Linked DNA regions of Homo sapiens. Each later gene encodes a partner of the first gene's protein in a complex. Links are inferred from orthologs where the notes say so. Each region holds a gene or a part of one and is shown in the gene's direction. Other genes may lie near its edges. The genes, in order: GNAT1, UNC119, PDE6G and RHO.

Region 1 (7,624 bases):
AGGCAAATTGCTTGAGGTCAGGGGTTCGAGACCAGCCTGGGCAACATGGTGAAACCCTCTCTCTACCAAAAATACAAAAATTAGCTGGGCATAGTCATGCATGTGGTCCCAGCTACTTGGGAGGCTAAGGTGGGAGGATGGCTTGAGCCTGGGAGGCAGAGGTTGCAGTAAACCGAGATCATTCAACTGCATTCTAGCCTAGGCGACAGAGCCAGACCTTGTCTCAAAAAAAAAAAAAAAAAAAAAAAAGGAATTCTGTGTGTGCTTCAAATTTTCCTCATTGTACAGAACCTCCTTATGGTCATCACTCCTGAAATGGAAATCTGTACAGATGCCTTATTCAAATATCTCTCATTATGTAGAAACTTCATGTGGTTTTTCTGGCATATGGAAATCCCACATGGGTGCCTCTACACGGAATGGCCACAAAGGTGGTCTGATCTGGTTGCTGGCTAGGGCCATAGGGTGGTCACAGAGCCTCTGAACCCCCTCTCCTTGCCCCTGCAGATTCGTGCAGAGGACCGCTTCCTGCGCACAGAGCAGGGCTTGTTGCTCCGTGCACTGCAGCTCAGCGATCGTGGCCTCTACTCCTGCACAGCCACTGAGAACAACTTTAAGCACGTCGTCACACGAGTGCAGCTGCATGTACTGGGCCGGGACGCCGTCCATGCTGCCCTCTTCCCACCACTGTCCATGAGCGCCCCGCCACCCCCAGGCGCAGGCCCCCCAACGCCTCCTTACCAGGAGTTAGCCCAGCTGCTGGCCCAGCCAGAAGTGGGCCTCATCCACCAGTACTGCCAGGGTTACTGGCGCCATGTGCCCCCCAGCCCCAGGGAGGCTCCAGGGGCACCCCGGTCTCCTGAGCCCCAGGACCAGAAAAAGCCCCGGAACCGCCGGCACCACCCTCCGGACACATGAGGCCAGCTGCCTGTGCCTGCCATGGGCCAGCCTAGCCCTTGTCCCTTTTAATATAAAAGATATATATATATATATATATATATAAAATATCTATATTCTATACACACCCTGCCCCTGCAAAGACAGTATTTATTGGTGGGTTGAATATAGCCTGCCTCAGTGGCAGCATCCTCCAAAACTTAGACCCATGCTGGTCAGAGACGGCAGAAAACAGAGCCTGCCTAACCAGGCCCAGCCAGTTGGTGGGGCCAGGCCAGGACCACACAGTCCCCAGACTCAGCTGGAAGTCTACCTGCTGGACAGCCTCCGCCAAGATCTACAGGACAAAGGGAGGGAGCAAGCCCTACTCGGATGGGGCACGGACTGTCCACCTTTTCTGATGTGTGTTGTCAGCCTGTGCTGTGGCATAGACATGGATGCGAGGACCACTTTGGAGACTGGGGTGGCCTCAAGAGCACACAGAGAAGGGAAGAAGGGGCCATCACAGGATGCCAGCCCCTGCCTGGGTTGGGGGCACTCAGCCACGACCAGCCCCTTCCTGGGTATTTATTCTCTATTTATTGGGGATAGGAGAAGAGGCATCCTGCCTGGGTGGGACAGCCTCTTCAGCCCCTTCTCCCCTCCCCGCCTGGCCAGGGCAGGGCCACCCCACTCTACCTCCTTAGCTTTCCCTGTGCCACTTTGACTCAGAGGCTGGGAGCATAGCAGAGGGGCCAGGCCCAGGCAGAGCTGACGGGAGGCCCCAGCTCTGAGGGGAGGGGGTCCGTGGTAGAGGCCTGGGGCCGGTAGAGGCTCCCCAGGGCTCCCTTATGTCCACCACTTCAGGGGATGGGTGTGGATGTAATTAGCTCTGGGGGGCAGTTGGGTAGATGGGTGGGGGCTCCTGGTGGCCTTCTGCTGCCCAGGCCACAGCCGCCTTTGGGTTCCATCTTGCTAATAAACACTGGCTCTGGGACTAGACTTTGGCTTCTCTCCTTGGTCAGGGGATTTAGAGCCACACGTGGTGGGCCTGGGGAGCCAGGTGGGGGGCTGGGAAGGGAGTAGATTGGCTCCATTTAAAGAAACCCAACATGTAGAAACCACATTTAGTTTGACAAACCTGGGCTGCTGCACCACCCCAAACACTTGGGTAGTGCGAAGGGCTGTAGAGACCCCTCAGGGCCCACTCACTCCTCAGGGTCAGGGAGGGTGGGTGGAGCCTGAAGGCTGAAAGTGGCAGAAATGCAACGGCCTCACTCCTGGACAGATCCCCATCATCCAACAGGGTGGGTGTAGAAGCTGCCAGCCTGTGGTAGGAGCCAGCATTCACTTCCCACGCATACTATTTAGAGACAGCCGTTAGTGCTCAGTGTCTGGTGCCCCGGCACCCCCTTGTGGTCTCTTGAGTCTGTGGCAGAGTTGAGTGCTGAAAGGCAGCCAGGTTCCAGGGAAGAGTCCAGCCAGGAGGCTCAGGGTGCCTGGAGGAGCCTTTGAGAGCCCAAGATTTGGGTTTTCCTATGGAAGTTGAGGGTGGGAAGTCTCTAGAACCTGGGAGCTCAACCTGAACAATTTCTGCCCGGCAGTGAGCCCTGCACCTGAACAGAGCACCAGACCCCCTAAGCTGAGGCAGGCAGGCCCTGGAGATAATCTTAGGCAGGCCTCAGAGCACCCACAGCAGACAGAGCAGGAGCAGGATAGGTGAGCCCCATTCCTCCATACCCCAGGGAACACTACACCTGCTCTGGGATGCAATTTCTCCACCTGGCAACAGGCCTGCAAAACATTCTCTGGAAGAGCCTGGCCACTTCTGCAGATTAGAGACTTTGTTGCACCCAAATTCAAGTGTACATATAGGCACAGGCGCCTGCAAGCATGCATGCACACACACAGTCATACACAGGCAGAGATGGACATGCACAGGCACACATATGCTCAGGTACAAACAGGCATGTTTACACCCCTGCGTATAAGCAAGTGCACACATGCAAACCTACACAAACTGCAAAACACACAAGCCTATGTGTGCATGAAGAGAATACACAAAGCATATTCACACATGCATACACATGTGTATACATGTGCACACATACATAAGCATGCGCACAGGCACGTGATTCCTATAAGAGCACATGCACTCACAAAGGCATAAACATGCAGGCACACATGTACACACAGGTATTCATGCACAAATGTGTCAAGTTATTGCTCGCTTGGTGCCAGCAAAAGACACACCCATGGCCGGGCGAGGTGGCTCACACCTGAATCCCAGCACTTTGGGAGGCCGAGGTGGGTGGATCACAAGGTCAGGAGATCGAGACCATCCTGACCAACATGGTGAAACCCCGTCTCTACTAAAAATACACAAAAAATTAGCTGGGTATGGTGGCACATGCCCGTAATCCCAGCTACTTGGGAGGCTGAGGTGGGAGAAGCTTAAACCAGGGAGTTGAAGGTTGCAGTGAGCCAAGATCGTGTCACAGCACTCAAGCCTGGCAACAGAGTGAAACTCTGTCTCAAAAAAAAAAAAAAAAAAAAAAAAAAAAGGCCAGGCACGGTGGCTCATGCCTGTAATCCCAGCACTTTGGGAGGCCGAGGCGGGCAGATCACGAGGTCAGGAGACTGAGACCATCCTGGCTAACACGGTGAAACCCTGTCTTTACTAAAATACAAAAAAAGTAGCCCGACGTAGTGGCGGGCACCTGTTGTCCCAGCTACTCAGGAGGCTGAGGCAGGAGAATGGCGTGAACCTGGGAGGTGGAGCTTGCAGTGAGCTGAGATTGCGCCACTGCACTCCAGCCTGAGCAACAGAGCGAGACTCCATCTCAGAAAAAAAAAAAAAAAAGACACATACACCGAGGCACACAGAGCAGATATGCATGCCCACCACAGTCCGCTGGAAGCAGAGGACCTCCTTGGGGCAGCTCCAGCCTGTGATATGGGATGAATGCAATGCCCACTGTTTCCCTCTCTCTGGATTCCCTGCAGGTCATAAAATCCCAGTCCAGAGTCACCAGCCCTTCTTAACCACTTCCTACTGTGTGACCCTTTCAGCCTTTACTTCCTCATCAGTAAAATGAGGCTGATGATATGGGCATCCATACTCCAGGGCCAGTGTGAGCTTACAACAAGATAAGGAGTGGTGCTGAGCCTGGTGCCGGGCAGGCAGCAGGCATGTTTCTCCCAATTATGCCCTCTCACTGCCAGCCCCACCTCCATTGTCCTCACCCCCAGGGCTCAAGGTTCTGCCTTCCCCTTTCTCAGCCCTGACCCTACTGAACATGTCTCCCCACTCCCAGGCAGTGCCAGGGCCTCTCCTGGAGGGTTGCGGGGACAGAAGGACAGCCGGAGTGCAGAGTCAGCGGTTGAGGGATTGGGGCTATGCCAGCCCGATTAGAAGGGTTGGGGGGGCTGAGCTGGATTCACCTGTCCTTGTCTCTGATTGGCTCTTGGACACCCCTAGCCCCCAAATCCCACTAAGCAGCCCCACCAGGGATTGCACAGGTCCGTAGAGAGCCAGTTGATTGCAGGTCCTCCTGGGGCCAGAAGGGTGCCTGGGAGGCCAGGTTCTGGGGATCCCCTCCATCCAGAAGAACCACCTGCTCACTCTGTCCCTTCGCCTGCTGCTGGGACCATGGGGGCTGGGGCCAGTGCTGAGGAGAAGCACTCCAGGGAGCTGGAAAAGAAGCTGAAAGAGGACGCTGAGAAGGATGCTCGAACCGTGAAGCTGCTGCTTCTGGGTAGGGGTGTGGGCCCAGGTGGGGCCACTGCCACCAGGTCATTGGTCTGGAGGCAGGCAGGCAGCCCTTCTGTGAAGCAAGGATTCCCTGGGAAGCAGTATGAGCCTGTGACAGAGTAGGGCACAGGGTGGGAGCCCTGGCCAAGCAAGGCCAGGCCTGACAGGTGGTGTCCTAGTCCCCCAGGGCTGGACATCCCACAAAGCCCCTCTCCAGACGGCTCTGCCTCAGGTGACCCACCCTCCCCAGAAGTGCGTGCCAACCACACTCTTGCACGGGTGTGTGATGCCGACTTTTCCGTGGCTGGGTTCCCGCAAGCTTCATGCAGCCTTTGGTTTGATACGCCTGCTAGGCAATGCTCAGAAGCCAGGAGCCTCACTGGGAGCCCGTTATTGGGCTGCTACTTTGGGAAGGGGATGGCCATAGTCCTCCTGGGAGTGGGGAGCCTCTAGGACCACCCAGATCCACAACGAATGGCCCTCAGGTGCCAGAGGGCTGTGGCTGATAGACCTACAAAGCAGCCAGAGGGGCTGGCGGGTACTGAGGCCCAGTGGGAGTAGATAAAGCCGCGTCCACTGGACCATGGGCACTGAGGAGAGATGGGGCTGATCCAGGCCTGCCTCAAGGTCACTGCCTGACCTCTCAAGGGGAAAAAGCAGCTTCAAGAGGGGCTCCACCCAAGCTCCCCAGGGTCTGGTCAACCAGCTGGAGGTGGGTGAGGGACCAAGCCAGTCCCACTTTCCCCCAAGGCAGAGAGGCTAAGCCGGAAATCTCATTAACTGTGCCCAACGCCCTCGCAGGGGCAAGCTCAGAAAGGATGTCAACTCTGCCCTCCCTCCTACCCAAAAGAGCTAATTCCCTCTGAGCCTCCTGGAGACACCTGCACCCCTTCAGGTGAAATGCAAGGGGTTTACCCGCCTCAAATAACCCAGTGCTTGCGGTACCAGAGGCTCCCACGAGGTGGCGATGACGCTCCGGGATTTCTTCATTGCAGTCTCACAGCATAATAAAGGCTGCCTGTGCCGGGGTCTTGGGGACTCCCCTGTCCCAGAACAGTTGAGGTCGTTGAGTCCCCTCGTTGGCTTCCTTTCTTCACTTTCCTGGCATTTGCAAACCTTGTGACTTCAGGATGTCAGGACTTAATTTGGATGGGGGGGTAGGTGTGGCTACGGGGTCGGGGCTGGCGCTCAGGCCTCTTCGCTGCGGGTCCACCCTGCCAACTCGGGAGGTCCCCGTCCTCCTGGCCTCCTTGCTGGAGGGGGCAGGCTGGTCAGCGCAGCTCTGAGGCGCCGCGTCTCTTTCAGGTGCCGGTGAGTCCGGGAAGAGCACCATCGTCAAGCAGATGAAGTGAGTGCCCCTGCCTGTCCCGAGGCCCCTGGGTCTGGGTCCTTCCCCACTTCCCCACGAGGCGCTGATTCTGCTCTCCTCGGCCTCAGGATTATCCACCAGGACGGGTACTCGCTGGAAGAGTGCCTCGAGTTTATCGCCATCATCTACGGCAACACGTTGCAGTCCATCCTGGCCATCGTACGCGCCATGACCACACTCAACATCCAGTACGGAGACTCTGCACGCCAGGTGTGCCAGGAGGCGGGCTGAGCGGGCCTCTGGGGACTCGAGGCTCGCGGCTGGGCCCGAGTCCCTGGCCGCCACCAGCCACTCTCACCCTGCCCCCAGGACGACGCCCGGAAGCTGATGCACATGGCAGACACTATCGAGGAGGGCACGATGCCCAAGGAGATGTCGGACATCATCCAGCGGCTGTGGAAGGACTCCGGTATCCAGGCCTGTTTTGAGCGCGCCTCGGAGTACCAGCTCAACGACTCGGCGGGCTAGTGAGCGCGCGGGCAGCGCGGGGCGCGGGGCGCGGGGCGCAGGGGGCCCTCCACGCCTCCCCACCCACCTACGGCCGGGTCTCGCGCAGCTACCTCTCCGACCTGGAGCGCCTGGTAACCCCGGGCTACGTGCCCACCGAGCAGGACGTGCTGCGCTCGCGAGTCAAGACCACTGGCATCATCGAGACGCAGTTCTCCTTCAAGGATCTCAACTTCCGGTACGACCCATACGCTAGCCCAGGAGGTCACTGCCCCAGGCCCCGTCCTGCCCCGGGGACCCCATCCCTGCGATAGACCCTGCCCCTTCCCTGATACCCCGCCAGCAGAAAGGGTGGTAGTCCCGGCCGAGAGCTCCCCGACCAGCACAGGGCGAAGGGATGTTGCCTGTGGGGCCCGGGGCGCAGGTTCAGGCCCCCGCGGCCCCGCAGGATGTTCGATGTGGGCGGGCAGCGCTCGGAGCGCAAGAAGTGGATCCACTGCTTCGAGGGCGTGACCTGCATCATCTTCATCGCGGCGCTGAGCGCCTACGACATGGTGCTAGTGGAGGACGACGAAGTGGTGCGTGCCAGGCAGGGCCTGTGTTCCAGGGGGGCGAGGAGGAGCTGCTGGTCCCTGGAGGCGGAGACCGCGCGCTGGGCTGGGGGAGGGCACGGGAGGGGATGCCTGTCCCGGGCGGCCTGAGGAGGCCCGGAGGCGTTCAGCAGGCCCATCTGGGGCAGTGCGGGGAGCCCTCTGAGAGCCAGCTGAGCGGGAAGCCCCGCGTGCCCGGGAGCCCAGAGAGCAGGTGCTGCGGGTCGGACGCTACCCCGGGTGCCCAACAGCTGCTGCCCTCCTCAGAACCGCATGCACGAGAGCCTGCACCTGTTCAACAGCATCTGCAACCACCGCTACTTCGCCACGACGTCCATCGTGCTCTTCCTTAACAAGAAGGACGTCTTCTTCGAGAAGATCAAGAAGGCGCACCTCAGCATCTGTTTCCCGGACTACGATGGTGAGAAGTCCGCAAGGCCGCCAGGCGGCGCCCCCGCCCCACGATCGCGGCGCGCACCCCCCGCACGGGGAAGGAAGGGCTGAGCAGAGTGAGAGCTCCCGCCCCCGCAGGACCCAACACCTACGAGGACGCCGGCAACTACATCAAGGTGCAGTTCCTCGAGCTCA
Region 2 (8,318 bases), on another chromosome or scaffold:
CTAGCACTTTTTACAAATGAATGACTAGGCTGGGTCTATCTCCCTAAAAGCCATCTAGGAGAGAGGCTGTCACACACATAGGAAAGACAACAGCAAAAGTACTTGAGGGCAGAATTTGAATTGACAGTTCTGCTGATTGAGGTTGAATAACCTTGAAGCTAGTATTAGAGTTTTTCATTTTTCGGGTGGAAACTAGGAAGAGGAGGTGTGACTAAGAACTGTAACACAGGCAAACCAAAGTGAGTATATCTAATTGTGGAATCTCAGATACCAGAGGCAGGCTAGTGTGGCCCAAGGATTGTGAGGGGGTGGCATGTGAGGCCTTAGAAAATTCCTCCGTTCATTTATTCATTCAGCAAACATTGACTGAGGGACTACCTTATGACAGTGCTGAGTAGAGAAAAGAAGGGCATTTCAGGCAAAGGGAACTGTGAGCTTAGATGCAGACAAGTGAGAGAGCTTAGGCATTCAGGAAGCTCAGAGTAGTTTAGTGTGGCTGAAATGTGAGTGAGTGACCAAAGATGAAGCCGGTTAGGCAGGCAGGAGCCAGGTCATAAAGGACCATGTTAAGGAGTTTGAACTTTAACCTGATATGGGTGGCTAGTGATTGAGGGATATTAAGCAGGGAACTGACATAAGGTCAGATTTCTGGTTTGCATAAAACTATCTGTAGTAATATGGGTACATTGTGGGAGTGGCCAAGAAAGCTGTCGTAGACAGTCAAGGGGCCTTTGAGGAGGGAGAATTCGGGGGTGTTTTGGAGCTAAGGACTATGTTTCCATCGGTATGGCACATCTCGGGAGAACATTCTGAAGCCCTTTACTAGAGACACCCTGGACAGGAGGATATCCTAATGATTGTTAGTTGGGGAATCAGTCCCAGAGTGAGTGACCAGCAAGTTAGAGGCCGACCTGGGACTAAGGTCCAGGTCCAGCATGTTTTGATATTCTGCTTTCCCTTTATACCACAGGATCCAGTGCTGCCTCCTTGTACCCTGTGCTCAACTTTCTACTCTACGTGCCTGAGCTTGCACACTCACCGCTGTACATTCAGGACAAGGATGGCGCTCCAGTGGCCACCAATGCCTTCCATAGTCCCCGCTGGGGTGGCATTATGGTAATAGTCACACTACGCAGACCCCAGAGCCCATGCTTCTGGGACAGGCAGGTGTCCCTGAAACTGTGTTCCTTCTGTTTTCCTTCTGGTGTCCTCCATGGCCCAGCCTGTGGGAGGGGCAGGCACCAGGAAGGTGAGGGTGCTATGTGCTCATGCCCCTCTTCTGCCGGCCCCACTTTTGTTTCCGCCAGTGTTTTCTATACTGTGACCCTTTGCCCTTACCTAGGATCATTCTGTGTCCATCTTAGATCTTCGCCTTATTTGTGGGAGTCTTGCAAGGTTGGGAGCCTTGTCTCCCTTGTTAGACTGGAAGTTTCTCATGGGGGAGAATTCTAAAATGGGATAAGAAAAAAATATGTTCTACAGGACTTTCAAGGGGGTAATTGGGATAATGTATTTAATGCTCTCCGTAGTAGGTACTCAAAAAATATTAGCTATACCATGAGGTTTATAGCTTCTAAAGAGCACAGAATATGTTTTCCTTTTCTCTCCAGAGTGCCTAGGGCAGAGCTGTGCAAGGGCCTGGTATGATGTTGTGGCAATCTCATTCCCCCTTTCAGGTATATAATGTTGACTCCAAAACCTATAATGCCTCAGTGCTGCCAGTGAGAGTCGAGGTGGACATGGTGCGAGTGATGGAGGTGTTCCTGGCACAGTTGCGGTGAGGTCCTGGATGATCCACTTGGGGACATAGTCTCCTTGGCTGTAGAGGGGAGTTGCAAAGTGGAATCAAGTCTTACCTGGCAGGGATATCTTGGCTGTGCCTAGAGCCCCAGGGAAACCAAGAAAAGTTTCTAAGGATCCCATCATCCTTCTAAGAAGGACTAGTAGGTGACAAAATCATTTATTTTTTTTTTTGAGACGGAGTCTTGCTCTGTTGCCCAGGCCGGAGTGCAGTGGTGCCATTTTGGCTCACTGCAACCTCCACCTCCCGGGTTCAAGCAATTCTCTGCCTCAGCCTCCCGAGTAGCTGGGACTACAGGTGCCCGCCACCACAACTGGCTAATTTTTTGTAATTTTAGTAGAAACGGGGTTTCACCATCTTGGCCAGGCTGGTCTTGAACTCCTGACCTCGTGATCCACCCGCTTAGGCCTCCCAAAGTGCTGGGATTACAGGCGTGAGCCACTGTGCCCAGCCAGCAAAACCAGTTTTAAGAAAAATAGACTCATGAATGTCAGGTCCATGGAGTGTGATTAGGGCTGCTTAAGAAAATAGCTGTTAATTCTTATGCTGCCTGATGGATTGAGAGTGGCTGCCTGAGGCTCTGTGTTGAGGATTCTAAGGCTGTATCTGGGCTCATTAGGAAAGAGTATTCTTCTGATTGACTAGCAGTGTCTCTCACGGATGCAGGCTTAGAGAAGCACAGCACATGTGCCTTGGCAAAGGCAGTCCTGGATCATCCCTTAATGCTAAGTCCCATTGGCCCCATTTGTTCAAAGAGAGGGTAGAAAAGGTGAAAGGATTAAACTGAGTTGGTGTTATCAGAAGTATTTTAGCCATGGAACCTTTTTTTAAAAAACAAGATCTTGGAAATCTAATGTAGAAACAGGTAAAAGCAGAAACACCTGTTGAAGCAGCGTTTGGGGCCAACTTGTTTGGTGTTGCCCCTTATGCCCCCAAGACCCTGAGGTACTTCCCTTTAACCCCTATGGTTCTGGGTAAGATTGAAAATCACTGGCTCAGGACAGATATTTGAGAAATCTTAGCCATGATCTCCCGCCTTGTGGTCTCAGCCACCTTGATCTTACTCCGATGTTCCTACAGGTTGCTCTTTGGGATTGCTCAGCCCCAGCTGCCTCCAAAATGCCTGCTTTCAGGGCCTACGAGTGAAGGGCTAATGACCTGGGAGCTAGACCGGCTGCTCTGGGCTCGGTCAGTGGAGAACCTGGCCACAGCCACCACCACCCTTACCTCCCTGGCGCAGCTTCTGGGCAAGATCAGCAACATTGTCATTAAGGACGACGTGGCATCTGAGGTAAGCAGGCAGGGGATGGATTCTGCAGCTTGGGACTGGAGTAGCCAGAGAGGGCCAGAGTGTGGTGAGACCAGAGAGCCTGTGAGGTCCATGGTATGTGTGGGCTTGCCATCTTTAGTGTCCCAGCCTTCCTCTAGACGGCAGTACCAGCCCCCAAGCAGGAGTGCAGATGAGAGTGCGAGGTTTCAAGCTGACCCTAGGAAAATAAACCATATCCCTGTAGAAAGACTTCCATAGATCCTGGATGAACTCCAGGCATCTTCCTTGGTAGATGGAAGGCACAGTAAGGCCCAGCACCCTTTCCACCAATGCCTAGGACTTACTGGTATACCCTCTTGTCCCTTCTCCTTCCTAGGTGTACAAGGCTGTAGCTGCCGTCCAGAAGTCGGCAGAAGAGTTGGCGTCTGGGCACCTGGCATCTGCCTTTGTCGCCAGCCAGGAAGCTGTGACATCCTCTGAGCTTGCCTTCTTTGACCCGTCACTCCTCCACCTCCTTTATTTCCCTGATGACCAGAAGTTTGCCATCTACATCCCACTCTTCCTGCCTATGGCTGTGCCCATCCTCCTGTCCCTGGTCAAGATCTTCCTGGAGACCCGCAAGTCCTGGAGAAAGCCTGAGAAGACAGACTGAGCAGGGCAGCACCTCCATAGGAAGCCTTCCTTTCTGGCCAAGGTGGGCGGTGTTAGATTGTGAGGCACGTACATGGGGCCTGCCGGAATGACTTAAATATTTGTCTCCAGTCTCCACTGTTGGCTCTCCAGCAACCAAAGTACAACACTCCAAGATGGGTTCATCTTTTCTTCCTTTCCCATTCACCTGGCTCAATCCTCCTCCACCACCAGGGGCCTCAAAAGGCACATCATCCGGGTCTCCTTATCTTGTTTGATAAGGCTGCTGCCTGTCTCCCTCTGTGGCAAGGACTGTTTGTTCTTTTGCCCCATTTCTCAACATAGCACACTTGTGCACTGAGAGGAGGGAGCATTATGGGAAAGTCCCTGCCTTCCACACCTCTCTCTAGTCCCTGTGGGACAGCCCTAGCCCCTGCTGTCATGAAGGGGCCAGGCATTGGTCACCTGTGGGACCTTCTCCCTCACTCCCCTCCCTCCTAGTTGGCTTTGTCTGTCAGGTGCAGTCTGGCGGGAGTCCAGGAGGCAGCAGCTCAGGACATGGTGCTGTGTGTGTGTGTGTGTGTGTGTGTGTGTGTGTGTGTCAGAGGTTCCAGAAAGTTCCAGATTTGGAATCAAACAGTCCTGAATTCAAATCCTTGTTTTTGCACTTATTGTCTGGAGAGCTTTGGATAAGGTATTGAATCTCTCTGAGCCTCAGTTTTTCATTTGTTCAAATGGCACTGATGATGTCTCCCTTACAAGATGGTTGTGAGGAGTAAATGTGATCAGCATGTAAAGTGTCTGGCGTGTAGTAGGCTCTTAATAAACACTGGCTGAATATGAATTGGAATGATACAAAGTCTGAGCTCTACTCTTTCTGCATTCACGCGTAAGTAACAGTTTCCTGGTGTTTGTCCTCCTGTGCCCACAGGTCCACTTTGCTTCCACGTGGCCATGTGCCCTTCCTAGCTGGATTGCCCAAGGCTGTTAGCATCTGCTTTTTACCTGAGATACTAATTCATCAGGTCAAAAAAAAAAAAAAAAAAAAAAAAAAAGTCTTGAGCACCAGCTGCAGGGAGCCTTCTGCTAGGTACAGGGGTCCTACAGAGAACAAAGTAGGCAGGACCAGTGCTTTCACAGAGCTGAGCTTTCAGGGGGAAGAGTCAGCGGACAAATAAAAATAATTTCACATAATGCATTAGAAAGACAAAAACAGGCTGGTCAGATGGTGACTGAGGGGGAAGGACTTCAGACTGGGTGTGAGGGAGGCCCTTTGAGCAGATGACATTTGAGCTGTGACTAGGAGAAAAGAGGCCATCTGGGGAAGACCATCCAAGCAGAGACCCTGAGCCTGGAACTCACGGGCAGAAAGGCTGGAACACAATGAGTAAGCGGAGAGGTAGTCAGGACCCCACTAGTACCAGTACAAGAAAGTGTTAGAAAAACAGAATGAAGCCCAGGGCAGGATACCCCGACTCCCATCCCCCGCGCCCGTCGCATTTCGGGAGGGTTGGGCCGGGCGGCGGGCGGGATCAGCGCAGGGCCCACCCCAGGGGCGGGGCCGGGGCGGGGCAGTACCTGGGGCCCCGGCCGGGGGCGGGGCTGCGGATGCTCCCACTTCCCCCGGCTCCAGCCGGCGCAGGCAGCGGCGGCAGCAGCAGGCGAGCCTCGGCCCCGCAAGGCCATGAAGGTGAAGAAGGGCGGCGGTGGGGCCGGGACGGCGACGGAGTCCGCTCCGGGGCCCTCGGGCCAGAGCGTGGCCCCCATACCACAGCCGCCTGCGGAATCCGAATCTGGGTCCGAGTCGGAGCCGGACGCAGGCCCAGGGCCCAGGCCGGGGCCGCTGCAGAGGAAGCAGCCGATCGGGCCGGAGGACGTGCTGGGGCTGCAGCGGATCACCGGTGGTGAGCACCCGCGAGGGAGCGCCGCCCGCGGGTGGGAAGGGGAGAGGGTGCGAGGGGCCCTCCCGGCGCGCCAAGCCCTGGCCCCCGCCCCCTTTCCCGCCTCCCCTCCCCCACCGAGTCCCCTCTCCTGTGTCCCCTGCTCTCCCTTCTGCCGCCAGGTCTGAGATCTCTGTGTACCCCCTTCCCTTGATCTCTCTCTGTGCCTCCTTCTTCTCCCTTTCGAGATTTATTCCTTCCTTTTCCAGGGGCCCGTCCCCTTTTCCCAGCGTGGAGGTACGTGCGGCAGCAGCTGCAACCATAGCCCTGTAGCTGTGGAGTCTCCAGAGCGCTTTGAGGCCCGTCCCTGCACTAATGAAGAGAGGGGCTGAGTGCAGCCTGTCCTCAGCCCCCACGCTGGAGGCTAGGTGGAGGCTGAGTTACTTGGGAGGCATTCAGACTCTTCATGTCTCCCCAACCATTAATACCCTCACCCTGATCCTCCAGGAAGACTTGGGCCATTTTCTTCCCCGGGAAAGAAACTGAGCAGGCAGCTTTAGTGTGTTGGCTGTGGTTCCTCTCATGGGGAGTGGCATAATGTCCCTCCAAGCCTGGACTAGCACCTGTCCTCTTCTGGGGGCTCTGTCATCAAGGGAGGCTTGGTCTCCACTGTGGTTAAGAGTTTCTGAGCTGGACTGCCTGGGTTGGAGTTCCAACTCTGCCATATAATTGTCTGTGTGACCTTGGGCAAGTAACCTCACCTCTCTGAGCATGTCTTTTCATCTGTAAAATGGGGATAATGATACCTTTCTCGTAAGATTATTGTGAAGATAAGTCCTCTGATTCTGTACAGTGCCTGGCATCTATGCATGCTGTGTACATTGGGCTCTTTGATCAGTAGTATTTTTGGGCCCTACAGGGCTGCTCATAGCTGCTGCCTGGAGTCAAACAACTTGGCTTTCAGGGCAGGGGAGGGGGTCATCATAGGCAGGGAACGAGGGCTAGGAAACCTCATAGCAGAGGCTTTGGATGAGCCTCAAAGGATGAAAGGTGCATGGAGAGACAGTGGCTCTCCACCTTGGCCACATTCACCAGCAACCTGCCCTGGCCCCCTTTGTGAGAATAACTGTTGGGGGGGGCCTCTCTGTGGGTATGGGGGGCATGTATTGGAGTGGACCTGAGCCCTAGAGCTTCCAAAGCAGCAGAACACCGGACTCCCAGACAGAGCTGTGGAGGGGAGACAGCCTTGAGCCTGTGCTCCTGGGTCCCTGGGGGCCAATTCCTCTCTCCTTACTGAGCTAGGCAGCAGCCATTCTTAGCTGGGCCCCCAGAGTACTGAGCTCCCTTGCCCAAGCAGGCATCAATGGAGAGAGGGAGGCTGGACCAGGCTGATGTTGAAGCCAGTTGGGCTACAATTTGCAATAGCAGCATTTAGGATTCAGCTTAGCTCTGGGGCAGAACTTTCTCAGACTGACTGAGTCCTGAGTAACTTTGGGGGTTTATTTTGCAACTAGAGGGAGCTTCCAGCTCATGTACCACCATTTGTCTCCTAATTTGGAGGAAATTCATAGCCCTTAGAGATGGGGCATCTGTGAAGGGTAAGTAGAGGAAAGGGCTTCATGAGAACCCCTTCCTGTGCAGGAATTGAGAACAGAGTTCCAGGGATTTCCACCCTGGCACCCCTTGCCTGGTCTCTTCTGACCCTAATCATGCAGGTCTGAGGTTTGCTGTTCCCAGATTACTGGGCCCTGAATCCAGCTTAGGAAGCTATTTGTGGCTGAGAGGAATAGAGCAGTTGTGTTCTGAGCCCTTGGCCACTCTGCCCCTTATTCTGACCTGACCCTGGGTCCCAGGCCTCATCCTTTCTAGAAGAGAAGGAGTGGCCGTGGTGTTCTGAGCCATAGATATCCGTGTTCCTCACTTCTTCTAAGGACAGAGAGGTTGATAGATTGAGTTTGCAGTAGAAGAGACTGAGGTTAGACTGCAGGAAGTTGTTCCCAAATGAGAGAGGCTCCAAAAGTTGGAGAATGGGAGAAGAGAAGGCCTTACAGGGATCTGGGAGTTGGGCACTGGGATCCTGCTCCCCACTCTGCCACCTCCGTTCCCTATGCTCTGTACCTTCTTTCTATGTCTTTATACTGGTGCTTACTTTCTGTGAAAATAGGGTGAATGGGGTGAGATAGGGGTTGCCCACTTCCATTCTCTCCCCACCCCACATGTGGGCTGTAGTAGACTCAGGGCCCTGCCTCTTCCCCAAGCTGTATAAAGTCCATGCTGGGCCCCAGGGTACCAGATGGCTGCCAGGAGGGCTTCCTGGAGGGGACAGCGTCAGGCTTGGGGAAGAAGCAGACCTGGGGAAGAGAAAATGACTTTATATTCACTTCCTGTTCCTGCCCCAGAGGAATAGGAGGTGGCCCAGGGGCCTGGAGGGTGATTTCCAGGCCTCTGTGGGCCACCAGGGGAGGATGTGATGCTGTGCAGGCTGACAGCACGAGTCCCTCCCTGCACCTCTCAGCTCTTTTTGTTGCCAGGGCCTCCCTGAGCACTTGAAGTTGCTGCTGCAAGAGCTGTGAGGGTTAGATCAGGCCCTGTAGCTCCCTGAGCTTCCTCAGGCAGGGCCTCCCACTGTTCTTGGTTCCCTTCCTGGGCCTGAGGACTCCCCTTACCCCTTCCACACCCACTGCTGCACCTGCCACACCCTCCTCCTGGCCTAGCCTGTGTTCTTCTCTATGGGGGT
Region 3 (7,927 bases), on another chromosome or scaffold:
TTCATTGTTTTTTGTCTGTGTCTGTATGTGGAGATGGGGGTCTTCCTACGTTGCCCAAGTTGGTCGTAAACTCCTGGGCTCCTGCCTTGGCCTCCAAAGTGCTGTGATTACAGGTATGAGCTACCATGCCCAGCCTACAAAACAATTTTTAAAAACTTAGCTGGGCATGGTGGTGTGTGCCTGTAATCCCACCTACTTGGGAGGCTGAGGCAGGAGGATCACTTGGGCCAGGAAGTCAAGACGGAAGTAAGTCATGATTGCCTCACTACACTCCAGCCTGGGTGGCAGAGACCCCTGTCTCTAAAAACAAAACAATCACACACACAATCATATTCATAGTTCAACATGAGCACTTGAAGTAATTAAAGACCCCAGGGCAGCACACAGAATCTGCTTAGCCTGTAGATAGAGAACACAAGAAAAGCCATGGCAAAAAACTACGTATGTCCGGCCGGGCACGGCAGCTCACGCCTGTAATCCTAGCACTGTGGGAGTCTGAGACGGGCGGATCACTTGAGTCTAGGAGTTTGAGACCACCCTGGGCAACATAGTGAGACTCTATCTTTACAAAAAATACAAAAATTAGCCGGGTGTGGTGGTGAGCACCTGTAGTCCCAGCTACTCAGGAGGCTGATGTGGCAGGATTGCTTGAGCCTGAGGAGGTCAAGGCTGCAGTGAGTTTGTTTGTTCTCAAAAAACAAACAAAAAACAGTTTATAGTCTTTATACACAGCCGCTTTGGGAAAGCTCCATTCCTTAACTTGTGCTTGTCTTGGTCTTCCTGTGTGTAGTTACTGCTGTAGAAAAGTATTAATAGCTTCATTTTTTTGTTTTGAGACAGAGTCTCTGTCGCCCAGGCTAGAGAGCAATGGCACAATCTCTGCTCACTGCAACCTCCACTTACCGAGTTCAAAAAATTCTCCTGCCTCAGCCTCCCCAGTAGCTAGGATTAAGGCACCTGCCACCACGCCTGGCTAATTTTTTGTATTTTTAGTAGAGACAGGGTTTCGCCATGTTGGCCAAGCTGGTGTCGAACACCTGGCCTCAGCTGATCCACCTGCCTCAGCCTCCCAAAGTGCTGGATTACAGGTGTGAGCCACCGTGCCCAGCCTAATAGTCTCATTTTGTTTCTTTTCTTTTTTTCTTTTCTTTTTTTGAGATGAAGTTTCGCTCTTGTTGCCCAGGCTGAAGTGCAATGGCACGATCTTGGCTCACTGCAACCTCTGCCTGCTGGGTTCAATCGATTCTCCTGCCTCAGCCTCCTGAGTAGCTGGGATTACAAGCATGCACCACCACGCCCGGCTAATTTTGTATTTTTGTAGAGACAGGTCTTCTCCATGTTGGTCAGGCTGGTCTCCAACTCCTGACCTCAGGTGATCCGCCCACCTTGGCCTCCCAAAGTTCTGGGATTACAGACGTGAGCCAATGTGCCCGGCCTAATAGTTTCATTTCATGTAAACATAAGTAACTTCCAAGCAATTACGTAGAGGGCTAAAATTGTACCTGGTATTTAAGTCATCAGAACCGGTTCTGCAAGTGACTGTGTTTTGCATTATTGTGAAGATATGAAAATGTGGTGAACGACAATTTAAAGAGTGTTCCACATCACCGTTTAATTTCTTTTTTATTATTTATTTATTTTTGAGATGAAGTCTTCCTCTGTCGCCCAGGTTGGAGTGCAGTGGCGCCATCTCAGCTCACTGCAACCTCCGCCTCCCGGGTTTAAATGATTCTCCTGCCGCAGCCTCCCTGGCAGCTGGGACTACAGGCGCCCGCCACCACGCCCCACTAATTTTTTTAGTTTTAGTAGAGATGGGGTTTCACTATATTGCCCAGGCCGGTCTCAAACTCCTGACCTCAGGTGGTCCAGCCACCTCGTCCTCCAAAAGTACAGGGATGAGCCACCATGCCTGGCCTATTTTACTATTTCAGAGTTGAGGTCTCGCTCTGTCACCCAGGTTAAAGTGCAATGGTACAATAATAGCTCTCTGCAGCCTTGAATTCCTGCAGCCACCGATATTTCACTTCTGCATTCCAGCCTAGGTGACAGAGCCAGATCCTGTCTCTCAAAAAAAAAAAAAAAAAAAAAAGATATGGATTGCAATCTTGTTTCCTCTGGGGCTGAGTGAGGGATTGAGCCATGTGGGACAAGAGGTTTTTGACTTGTTCCATTTATTGCAGCATAACTTGAATCCAGCCGTCCTTTCTGGACTAGTGATTTTTGCCAGTCTCATGGCTAGAGTTTTACAATCAAGGCTATAGGGTCTTTGTTTAGGTCTATTTGGAGCTTTATGTATTTTCATGTGATTGTCTTTGTATATTGTCTGTGATACATGATACCAAAAAAGGAGTACTCATACATTTTATTTTATTTTACTATTTATATTTTTATTATTATTTTTTGAGACAGAGTCTCACTGTTGCCCAGGCTGGAGTGCAGTGGTGCAATCTCAGCTCACTGCAACCTCCACCTCCTGGGTTCAAGCGATTCTCCTGCCTCAGCCTCCTGAGTAACTGGGACTACAGGTGCATGCCACCACGCCCAGCTAATTTTTGTATTTTTAGTAGAGACAGGGTTTCACCATGTTGGCCAGGCTGGTCTTGAACTCCTGATCTCAAGTAATCCACCTGCCTCGGCCTCCCAAAGTGCTGAGATTACAGGCGTGAGCCACCATGCCCGTCCAGGTTTTATTTTTAATTTTTCAAAATTTTCATATTTCTTCAGAGATAGGGTCTCTCTCTGTCCCCCAGGCTGGAGTGGTTTGACCATGGCTCACTGCAGCCTCGAGCTCCTAGGCTCAAGGGATCCTCCTGCCTCAGCCTCCCAAGTAGCTGGGTCTATAGAAGTGAGCCACTGTGGCCAGGCACGGTGGCTCACACCTGTAATCCCAGCACTTCGGGAGGCCAAAGTGGGCAGATCACGAGGTCAGGAGATTGAGACCATCCTGGCTAACATGGTGAAACCCTGTCTCTACTAAAAATATTAAAAATTAGCTGGGCGTGGTGGTGGGAGCCTGTAATCCCAGCTACTCAGGAGGCCGAGGCAGGAGAATCACTTGAACTCAGGAGGCAGAGGTTGCAGTGAGCCGAGATCAGGCCACTGCACTCCAGCCTGGGCAACAGAGCGAGACTCAGTCTCAAAAATGAAATAATAAAATAAGAAGTGAGCCACTGCACCTAGCTAATTTTTTCTATTTTTTGTAGAGATGGGGGGGTCTCACTATGTTGTCCAGGCTGGTCTTGAACTCCTGGCCTCAAGTGATCCTCCTGCCTCAGCCTCCCAAAGCGCTGTTTGAGAGCCACTGCTCCCGGCCGAGTTATGGGTTTTTATTTATTTATTTATTTATTTATTTATTCATTTGAAACAGAATCTCGCTCTGTCGCCCAGGCTCTAGTGCGGTGGCGCGATCTCGGCTCACTGCAAGCTCCGCCTCCCGGGTTCACGCCATTCTCCTGCCTCAGCCTCCCAAGTAGCTGGGATTACAGGTACATGCCACCACGCCCGGCTAATTTTTTTGTATTTTTAGTAGAGTCGGGGTTTCACCATGTTAGCAAGGATGGTCTCGATCTCCTGACCTTGTGATCCACCTGCCTCAGCCTCCCAAAGTGCTGGGATTACAGGCATGAGCCACCACACCAGGCCTGAGTTATGGGTTTTTAAAGGTGCAGAGGCAGAGGTCACAGGCAAGTCATAAATCAGTACATGGAGGTTGTACACTGGTTTTGCCATAAATAGCAAGGAGATCTTGAAGCCAGGGACCACGGGTCATAGGTGGATTCAAAGGTTTTCTGATTTGGTGCAGAAGCGAATCTTTGTCTAAAACTTTGGGATCCGCAGGAAAGAATGTTAGCTCTGGGTTGTGGGCATGGCCTCCTCCAGGCCCCTCAGGATGGGCATAGCCTCCTCCAGGCCCCTCAGGAAGAAATTTAGGTAAGAGAAGGGTGGTCAGAGGCCAGTCCTCAGCTCCCGCTCATGTGAGGTCTGTGTGCCAGCACGCCCCTTTGGTGGGAGTCCCTGTTTCTGGAAAACAACTGAGGAGCACCTGCTAAGATGGCATGGTTTGCTTCTGTGGAGACTCTCGGGACTCTGGCTTCCATCTGTTGTTCTAAGCTCCTGTGACCTTCTTGTGACCTTCCTGTGGATCGGCTGCTCATTTCCTTCTCTGGGCTGGCTGGGGGCCTGGCTTGCCCTTGAAGGAACTCAACATTGTCCTTGCTTCTGTGCTTGGGAAGACCCACAGGCCCCTAAGGGCGGGGGGGGGTCCTTGTTTGGTTTCAGGAGCAGCAGGTGCAAAGGCCCTGGGGTGGGAGGGGTGAGATGTGAGGCCACAGCAGCGGGTGAGGGCCAGGCTGCAGAGGGTTTTGGGGACCATGAAGGTGGGCCCTTCAGAGATCAGGCAGGGTCAGGAAAGGCAGTAGGGAGGCCCAAGACAGCAGACACTGTGGTTGCTTCCATCTGGAAGATGGGCAGCTGCAGGAGCCTGGCTGTTCAGGGTCACACTTCTCTCCCTGTCCCGGCCCCATCTGCTGGGTGTCCTTCCTTGGAGCCCTTGACAGCACCTGAGCCCCTCCTCTCCATCCCCTGAACCTTGGTGGTTGTGCCCCCCCTCGGGGCCCAACAATCTCATTAGGGTGGCACTGAGACGCCTAATCAGCTCATGAAGCAGCGAGATAAAGGCCGGGGCTGGCACCCTGCGGAGGGAGGCCCAGCACTCACAGCACAGCCCCCTGAGACCCGCCCTGCACTTGGTGAGTAGTGGCCAACCCCGCTGTCTTTCCTGGCAGCCACTTCCCCCAGTGAGTCAGTGGGGGTCTGCTCATCACCCAAGGGGCAGAGGGAGCTGACAGGCTTTTACCACCGTGGCTGAGGTCTGGGTCTGCAGATGCCTACCCGCCACCCTGTTATTCAGAGGGGACTCCCAGCCAACCTCCTCCTCTGCTCCCCCATGGTAACCAGTGCTTCCACCATCCCCAGGCCAGTGATGGTCTGGGAACCTCAGGCCACGTGGGCTCAGCTGACCTGAGTGGACGCCAGTCACAGGCTGGGTCGGGCCAGGGCAGCGCAGGCAGCGGTTTCCACATGGATGGCATCTGATGGTTGGAGCTCCATCAGGGCCCAGAGCTGCCCAGGACAGCCCATGTCCCAGGGCTGGAGAAGCAGCTGGACGGGGCCTGTGCTATCTAGGATATGAGGATTGGGTGCCATGGGATCTGAGCAGCTGGGACCACCGGGCTCCTGAGTGCTGGTTTTGCACAGGCTGGTGCTGGTCCCAGTCCCGGGGACAGAGGCTGAACCTTAGTGAGGGAAGGTGCCATGGCAGGGTCCACCCCAATCCCAGGTGCCCAGCACCCCTTGCAGAGCCCGCGTCCCCAAAATGGGCCACCTGCCCTTGCTTTCTGATCACTCTCACGCCTGAAGCTCGGCAAACAGCTGGTAGTAGCCCAGGGCTGGAGTCAGGAATCCCAGCCAAAAAGACCAGGGGCAGGAAAGGGGACCCCAAGAGGTGGTCCCTGGGGCATCCAGTGCGGGCAAGCAGCCCCTCCTGTCTGTGTCATGTGCCTCCTTCCAGAACTTTCCGGCAGCATGTGCAGCTGACAGCAGCTCGATGGGAGATTAGGAATTCCCCTCTGCTGTTAATAGGCTTAGGGGAAGCTGAACTGCCCTTGGCCCAGGTCACTGGGGCTTAGGGCATCTGGGGAGAGGCTGTAGGGAGAGGAGGAGGAGAGGCCACCCTGTGCAGCAGTGCAGGGACACTGATCTCGTCCAGAGCGGCCGAGGCCCTTCAGCCACGCCACGCCACGCCAGGCGGGTGACCCTGCTCCCCGAGCTGACTCCAGACACAGAGAGGGCCTGGTGATTCCCCCAGCAGGGGGAACACATGCCCGGCACCCTCCGTCCCCAAGCCCCAGCTTGTCCCTCTATGAAGTGGGGTTGGGGAACGCAGGGCTTCACAGCTCAGCACCAAGTCTCTGAGACAGGCCCCTTTCCCAGGGGCGCCGTGCCTGGGGACCCTGCCCCCCATTTTGTGGGTCATTCTCCATCAGCACTGCGGGGTGCCCGTCATGGTGCTGAGGGGCTCAGGGATGCCTCCGTGAGTGGGTGAAGGGAACTGACAGCACCCCAACTGCAAAGCACAGACAAGAGGCAGAAAGCAATAAACCCATCAATAAGAATCAGAGGGGTTGGCCGGGCGCAGTGGCTCACGCCTGTAATCCCAGCACTTTGGGAGGCCAAGGTGGGTGGATCACGAGGTCAGGAGATCGAGACCATCCTGGCTAACATGGTGAAACTCCATCTCTACTAAAAAATACAAAAAAAAAAATAAATTAGCCGGGCGTGGTGTCGGGCGCCTGTAGTCCCAGCTACTGGGGAGGCTGAGGCAGGAGAATGACGTGAACCCAGGAGGTGGAGCTTGCAGTGAGCTGAGATCGTGCCACTGCACTCTAGCCTGGGCAACAGAGCGAGACTCCGTCTAAAAAAAAAAAAAAGGTGAGATTCCAGCCACAGCTCTGGAATAGGATCCTAGGGGGCTACTTTGGCAGGTATTAAAACTTTTTTAGGCCGGGCGCGGTGGCTCACGCCTGTAATCCCTGCACTTTGGGAGGCCGAGGCGGGTGGATCACAAGGTCAGGAGTTTGAGACCAGCCTGACCAAGATGGTGAAACCCCATCTGTACTAAAAACACAAAGAAAAATTAGCTGGGTGTGGTGGCGCATGCCTGTAATCTGAGCTACTCCGGAGGCTGAGGCAGGAGAATTACTTGAACCCGGGAGGCAGAAGTTGCAGTGAGCCAAGATCTCGCCACTGCACTCCAACCTGGGTGACAGAGCAAGACTCTGTCTCAAAAAAAAAAAAAAAAAAGAATCAGAGGGCAACAGCCCGGGAGACGCCCACCAGCCTGGAATCAGGGCTAACTCGACGCGTGATGAGAAGCGGCAAATCAGAACCTAAGGACACAGTGGCTGCAGGGCGGGGGTTCAGGGGAGACCTCCCTGAGCGGGAACTTGAGATGGAGGCAGCCCACTAACCATCAGGAAGGGCAGCTCAGAGGCAGGCTCCTCTGCTGGGCCTGGCAGGCCCATTCCCAGCAGGAGCCACAGAGGACTTTCATCAGAGTAGCAGCTGGGCCGGGTGCGGTGGCTCACGCCTGTAATACCAGCACTTTGGGAGGCTGAGGCGGGTGGATCATGAGGTCAGGAGTTCGAGACAACCTCGTCAACATGGTGAAACCCCGTCTCTACTAAAAATGCAAAAATGCAAAGATTAGCCGGGCATGGTGGCAGACGCCGGTAATCCCAGCTGCTGGGGAGGCTGAGGCAGGAGAATCACTTGAACCCGGGAGGCGGAGGTTGCAGTGAGCCGAGATAGTGCCACTGCACTCCAGCCCAGGCAACAAGAGCAAAACTCTGTCTCAAAAACAAAACAAAACAAAAAAAAACCCAGAGTAGCAGTTAAATGCCGACGGGAGTCACGCTTCCCTGGGGTGGGGAACGCAGGGGAAGGGGCAGGAAGTTGTCAGTGGTCACCCACAGGGAGGTGGTGAGGACTCCAGGCTCAGGACCTGCCACAGGTTGGGAGGCTAGGTTTGCTGTGGATTGTGGGCCGGGGCGAGGGAGGCCAGGACAGGGGGGAGTCCGGAGCTGTGTGTGGCCAGCGTTGCAGGGGGGCATCCACTAGGCAAGGGGAATGGGAGCGTGCGGGTGGACCCAAGCAAAGCTGGCAGGCTGGTTACCCCAGGGCGGATTGCAGGGGCTGCTGTCTGGATGACGCTGGAGCTGGCGGGGCTGGGTCTCAGCCCCTCCACCGGTGGGTTGAGACCCCCACAAGGGTTGGAAGCAGGAGGGCTGACTGGGACCCGGGCCTGGTCTGCCCCCAGACCGCAGCAGGAGGGAGTCCAGGAGCCAAGGTTGCCGCGGTGTCTCCGTCA
Region 4 (4,940 bases), about 79 Mb from region 1:
GAGGCCTCATGTCCCTCTGTCTCCAGAAAATTCCCACTCTCACTTCCCTTTCCTCCTCAGTCTTGCTAGGGTCCATTTCTTACCCCTTGCTGAATTTGAGCCCACCCCCTGGACTTTTTCCCCATCTTCTCCAATCTGGCCTAGTTCTATCCTCTGGAAGCAGAGCCGCTGGACGCTCTGGGTTTCCTGAGGCCCGTCCACTGTCACCAATATCAGGAACCATTGCCACGTCCTAATGACGTGCGCTGGAAGCCTCTAGTTTCCAGAAGCTGCACAAAGATCCCTTAGATACTCTGTGTGTCCATCTTTGGCCTGGAAAATACTCTCACCCTGGGGCTAGGAAGACCTCGGTTTGTACAAACTTCCTCAAATGCAGAGCCTGAGGGCTCTCCCCACCTCCTCACCAACCCTCTGCGTGGCATAGCCCTAGCCTCAGCGGGCAGTGGATGCTGGGGCTGGGCATGCAGGGAGAGGCTGGGTGGTGTCATCTGGTAACGCAGCCACCAAACAATGAAGCGACACTGATTCCACAAGGTGCATCTGCATCCCCATCTGATCCATTCCATCCTGTCACCCAGCCATGCAGACGTTTATGATCCCCTTTTCCAGGGAGGGAATGTGAAGCCCCAGAAAGGGCCAGCGCTCGGCAGCCACCTTGGCTGTTCCCAAGTCCCTCACAGGCAGGGTCTCCCTACCTGCCTGTCCTCAGGTACATCCCCGAGGGCCTGCAGTGCTCGTGTGGAATCGACTACTACACGCTCAAGCCGGAGGTCAACAACGAGTCTTTTGTCATCTACATGTTCGTGGTCCACTTCACCATCCCCATGATTATCATCTTTTTCTGCTATGGGCAGCTCGTCTTCACCGTCAAGGAGGTACGGGCCGGGGGGTGGGCGGCCTCACGGCTCTGAGGGTCCAGCCCCCAGCATGCATCTGCGGCTCCTGCTCCCTGGAGGAGCCATGGTCTGGACCCGGGTCCCGTGTCCTGCAGGCCGCTGCCCAGCAGCAGGAGTCAGCCACCACACAGAAGGCAGAGAAGGAGGTCACCCGCATGGTCATCATCATGGTCATCGCTTTCCTGATCTGCTGGGTGCCCTACGCCAGCGTGGCATTCTACATCTTCACCCACCAGGGCTCCAACTTCGGTCCCATCTTCATGACCATCCCAGCGTTCTTTGCCAAGAGCGCCGCCATCTACAACCCTGTCATCTATATCATGATGAACAAGCAGGTGCCTACTGCGGGTGGGAGGGCCCCAGTGCCCCAGGCCACAGGCGCTGCCTGCCAAGGACAAGCTACTTCCCAGGGCAGGGGAGGGGGCTCCATCAGGGTTACTGGCAGCAGTCTTGGGTCAGCAGTCCCAATGGGGAGTGTGTGAGAAATGCAGATTCCTGGCCCCACTCAGAACTGCTGAATCTCAGGGTGGGCCCAGGAACCTGCATTTCCAGCAAGCCCTCCACAGGTGGCTCAGATGCTCACTCAGGTGGGAGAAGCTCCAGTCAGCTAGTTCTGGAAGCCCAATGTCAAAGTCAGAAGGACCCAAGTCGGGAATGGGATGGGCCAGTCTCCATAAAGCTGAATAAGGAGCTAAAAAGTCTTATTCTGAGGGGTAAAGGGGTAAAGGGTTCCTCGGAGAGGTACCTCCGAGGGGTAAACAGTTGGGTAAACAGTCTCTGAAGTCAGCTCTGCCATTTTCTAGCTGTATGGCCCTGGGCAAGTCAATTTCCTTCTCTGTGCTTTGGTTTCCTCATCCATAGAAAGGTAGAAAGGGCAAAACACCAAACTCTTGGATTACAAGAGATAATTTACAGAACACCCTTGGCACACAGAGGGCACCATGAAATGTCACGGGTGACACAGCCCCCTTGTGCTCAGTCCCTGGCATCTCTAGGGGTGAGGAGCGTCTGCCTAGCAGGTTCCCTCCAGGAAGCTGGATTTGAGTGGATGGGGCGCTGGAATCGTGAGGGGCAGAAGCAGGCAAAGGGTCGGGGCGAACCTCACTAACGTGCCAGTTCCAAGCACACTGTGGGCAGCCCTGGCCCTGACTCAAGCCTCTTGCCTTCCAGTTCCGGAACTGCATGCTCACCACCATCTGCTGCGGCAAGAACCCACTGGGTGACGATGAGGCCTCTGCTACCGTGTCCAAGACGGAGACGAGCCAGGTGGCCCCGGCCTAAGACCTGCCTAGGACTCTGTGGCCGACTATAGGCGTCTCCCATCCCCTACACCTTCCCCCAGCCACAGCCATCCCACCAGGAGCAGCGCCTGTGCAGAATGAACGAAGTCACATAGGCTCCTTAATTTTTTTTTTTTTTTTAAGAAATAATTAATGAGGCTCCTCACTCACCTGGGACAGCCTGAGAAGGGACATCCACCAAGACCTACTGATCTGGAGTCCCACGTTCCCCAAGGCCAGCGGGATGTGTGCCCCTCCTCCTCCCAACTCATCTTTCAGGAACACGAGGATTCTTGCTTTCTGGAAAAGTGTCCCAGCTTAGGGATAAGTGTCTAGCACAGAATGGGGCACACAGTAGGTGCTTAATAAATGCTGGATGGATGCAGGAAGGAATGGAGGAATGAATGGGAAGGGAGAACATATCTATCCTCTCAGACCCTCGCAGCAGCAGCAACTCATACTTGGCTAATGATATGGAGCAGTTGTTTTTCCCTCCCTGGGCCTCACTTTCTTCTCCTATAAAATGGAAATCCCAGATCCCTGGTCCTGCCGACACGCAGCTACTGAGAAGACCAAAAGAGGTGTGTGTGTGTCTATGTGTGTGTTTCAGCACTTTGTAAATAGCAAGAAGCTGTACAGATTCTAGTTAATGTTGTGAATAACATCAATTAATGTAACTAGTTAATTACTATGATTATCACCTCCTGATAGTGAACATTTTGAGATTGGGCATTCAGATGATGGGGTTTCACCCAACCTTGGGGCAGGTTTTTAAAAATTAGCTAGGCATCAAGGCCAGACCAGGGCTGGGGGTTGGGCTGTAGGCAGGGACAGTCACAGGAATGCAGAATGCAGTCATCAGACCTGAAAAAACAACACTGGGGGAGGGGGACGGTGAAGGCCAAGTTCCCAATGAGGGTGAGATTGGGCCTGGGGTCTCACCCCTAGTGTGGGGCCCCAGGTCCCGTGCCTCCCCTTCCCAATGTGGCCTATGGAGAGACAGGCCTTTCTCTCAGCCTCTGGAAGCCACCTGCTCTTTTGCTCTAGCACCTGGGTCCCAGCATCTAGAGCATGGAGCCTCTAGAAGCCATGCTCACCCGCCCACATTTAATTAACAGCTGAGTCCCTGATGTCATCCTTATCTCGAAGAGCTTAGAAACAAAGAGTGGGAAATTCCACTGGGCCTACCTTCCTTGGGGATGTTCATGGGCCCCAGTTTCCAGTTTCCCTTGCCAGACAAGCCCATCTTCAGCAGTTGCTAGTCCATTCTCCATTCTGGAGAATCTGCTCCAAAAAGCTGGCCACATCTCTGAGGTGTCAGAATTAAGCTGCCTCAGTAACTGCTCCCCCTTCTCCATATAAGCAAAGCCAGAAGCTCTAGCTTTACCCAGCTCTGCCTGGAGACTAAGGCAAATTGGGCCATTAAAAGCTCAGCTCCTATGTTGGTATTAACGGTGGTGGGTTTTGTTGCTTTCACACTCTATCCACAGGATAGATTGAAACTGCCAGCTTCCACCTGATCCCTGACCCTGGGATGGCTGGATTGAGCAATGAGCAGAGCCAAGCAGCACAGAGTCCCCTGGGGCTAGAGGTGGAGGAGGCAGTCCTGGGAATGGGAAAAACCCCAACTTTGGGGTCATAGAGGCACAGGTAACCCATAAAACTGCAAACAAGCTTTGTCACCTCTCAGAGCTTCCTTATCTGCAAAAAAGAATCTTAAAACTGACCTTGGCTGGGCACAGTGGCTCACACCTCTAATCCCAGCACTTTGGGAGGCCAAGGTGGGCAGATCACGAGGTCAGGAGTTTGAGACCAGCCTGACCAACACGGTGAAACCCTGTCTCTACTAAAAATACAAAAATCAGCTGGGCATGGTGGCGCGTGCCTGTAATCCCAGCTATTCAGTGGGCTGAGGCAGGAGAATCGCTTGAACCTGGGAGGTGGAGGTTGCAGTGAGCCGAGATTGCGCCACTGCACTCCAGCCTGAGCAACAGAGGGACAGTCTGTCTCCAAACAAAACAAAACAAACAAACAAACAAACAAACAAACAAAAAACAACAACAAAAAAACCACTTGATCCTAAGGGGATTAGATGCGACTGTGGACTTTAAGTGGCCAGCCTACTGCCTGGCATGCAGCAGATGAGACTATGGCAATACTGGGCTTCAGCTCAGAGCTGGCCTTACTAGAGACCCTGTCCCAAAGGGGAAAAGGATGGAGCTAAAGCTCCCGAGAGTCACCCCCTCCTCCGAGGTGAGAAAGGAGGGCAGGAGCATGAGATAGCCGATCCTCGGTGCCTTGGTGAGGCTGGGGCAAATCATGCTGGGATCTCTATCATTGTCCCTCTTTACTGTGACTCACTAGATAATATCAGTCAGGATACTTTTGGTCACAAGTGATAGGAAATCCAACTCATTTGGGCTGAAGCAAAAGGGACACATTGTTGGCTCACATGAACAAAAAGCCCGGGGCTTCAGGCACAGGGTATCACCATGACTGAGATGGGGATTAATTCTGTGATTGGCCAAGTCTAGGTCACCTGATCATACGTAACTCATTTATGCCTGAGGTTGCAATTTTTTGGATTTTTGCAATCAGACCTTGGCGATGACCTTGAGCAGTAGGATATAAATAACTCCCACATGCTTAGCGTTCCAATAATGGAATACTAGGCATACGCAGGTCTAACTGCATCACCATGGCTGGAATGGGGATTCATCCTCTGATTGGTCAGACCTAGGTCACATGCTCACCCTGCAGCCCA

The links.
Region 2: the proteins of GNAT1 (region 1) and UNC119 are in contact, whole or in part, in a crystal structure (PDB 3RBQ), measured with the Homo sapiens proteins. Residues at the interface, in NP_000163.2 of Homo sapiens: Gly2, Ala3, Gly4, Ala5, Ser6, Ala7, Glu8; in NP_005139.1 of Homo sapiens: Asp87, Phe88, Val89, Arg90, Phe91, Ile105, Lys106, Lys107, Gly126, Arg127, Phe128, Val129, Tyr131, Phe137, Val147, Glu163, Leu172, Ser218, Tyr220, Asn230.
Region 3: the proteins of GNAT1 (region 1) and PDE6G are in contact, whole or in part, in a cryo-EM structure (PDB 7JSN), measured with the Bos taurus proteins. The link is inferred for Homo sapiens from one-to-one orthologs. Residues at the interface, in NP_851365.1 of Bos taurus: Ser140, Arg201, Arg204, Lys205, Trp207, Ile208, Phe211, Asp227, Val229, Glu235, Val236, Asn237, His240, Glu241, His244, Leu245, Ser248, Ile249, Ile281, Phe283, Glu305, Leu306, Met308; in NP_776846.1 of Bos taurus: Arg36, Gln37, Phe38, Lys39, Ser40, Lys41, Pro42, Pro43, Lys45, Leu60, Val66, Ile67, Cys68, Pro69, Trp70, Glu71, Phe73, Asn74, His75, Leu76, Glu77, Leu78.
Region 4: the proteins of GNAT1 (region 1) and RHO are in contact, whole or in part, in a cryo-EM structure (PDB 6OYA), measured with the Bos taurus proteins. The link is inferred for Homo sapiens from one-to-one orthologs. Residues at the interface, in NP_851365.1 of Bos taurus: Ala27, Arg28, Asp189, Leu190, Val312, Glu314, Tyr316, Asp333, Ala334, Asp337, Ile340, Lys341, Asn343, Leu344, Lys345, Asp346, Cys347, Gly348, Leu349, Phe350; in NP_001014890.1 of Bos taurus: Leu72, Arg135, Val138, Val139, Lys141, Ser144, Asn145, Phe146, Arg147, Val230, Ala233, Gln236, Gln237, Ser240, Thr242, Thr243, Lys245, Ala246, Glu249, Val250, Met253, Met257, Asn310, Lys311, Gln312.

Annotation. Positions count from the first base shown.
Region 1 is NC_000003.12:50,187,198-50,194,821, forward strand, and holds the start of GNAT1 (guanine nucleotide-binding protein G(t) subunit alpha-1), read left to right. Parts: upstream 1-4,412; 5' UTR 4,413-4,528; coding exon 4,529-4,634; intron 4,635-5,935; coding exon 5,936-5,978; intron 5,979-6,067; coding exon 6,068-6,209; intron 6,210-6,308; coding exon 6,309-6,466; intron 6,467-6,555; coding exon 6,556-6,684; intron 6,685-6,894; coding exon 6,895-7,024; intron 7,025-7,303; coding exon 7,304-7,457; intron 7,458-7,567; coding exon 7,568-7,624. Other genes in the region: SEMA3F (semaphorin-3F isoform 1 precursor), read left to right, coding at 508-918. UniProt on the Homo sapiens protein: Functions as a signal transducer for the rod photoreceptor RHO. Required for normal RHO-mediated light perception by the retina.
Region 2 is NC_000017.11:28,549,625-28,557,942, reverse strand, and holds the start of UNC119 (protein unc-119 homolog A), read left to right. Parts: upstream 1-5,318; 5' UTR 5,319-5,385; coding exon 5,386-5,605; intron 5,606-5,850; exon of another isoform or gene 5,851-5,878; intron 5,879-8,318. Other genes in the region: GPI-anchor transamidase component PIGS, read left to right, coding at 971-1,116, 1,677-1,777, 2,882-3,092, 3,448-3,723. UniProt on the Homo sapiens protein: Involved in synaptic functions in photoreceptor cells, the signal transduction in immune cells as a Src family kinase activator, endosome recycling, the uptake of bacteria and endocytosis, protein trafficking in sensory neurons and as lipid-binding chaperone with specificity for a diverse subset of myristoylated proteins.
Region 3 is NC_000017.11:81,653,314-81,661,240, reverse strand, and holds the start of PDE6G (retinal rod rhodopsin-sensitive cGMP 3',5'-cyclic phosphodiesterase subunit gamma), read left to right. Parts: upstream 1-4,698; 5' UTR 4,699-4,748; intron 4,749-7,514; exon of another isoform or gene 7,515-7,583; intron 7,584-7,876; 5' UTR 7,877-7,927.
Region 4 is NC_000003.12:129,531,542-129,536,481, forward strand, and holds the end of RHO (rhodopsin), read left to right. Parts: intron 1-709; coding exon 710-875; intron 876-991; coding exon 992-1,231; intron 1,232-2,066; coding exon 2,067-2,177; 3' UTR 2,178-3,803; downstream 3,804-4,940. UniProt on the Homo sapiens protein: Photoreceptor required for image-forming vision at low light intensity. Required for photoreceptor cell viability after birth.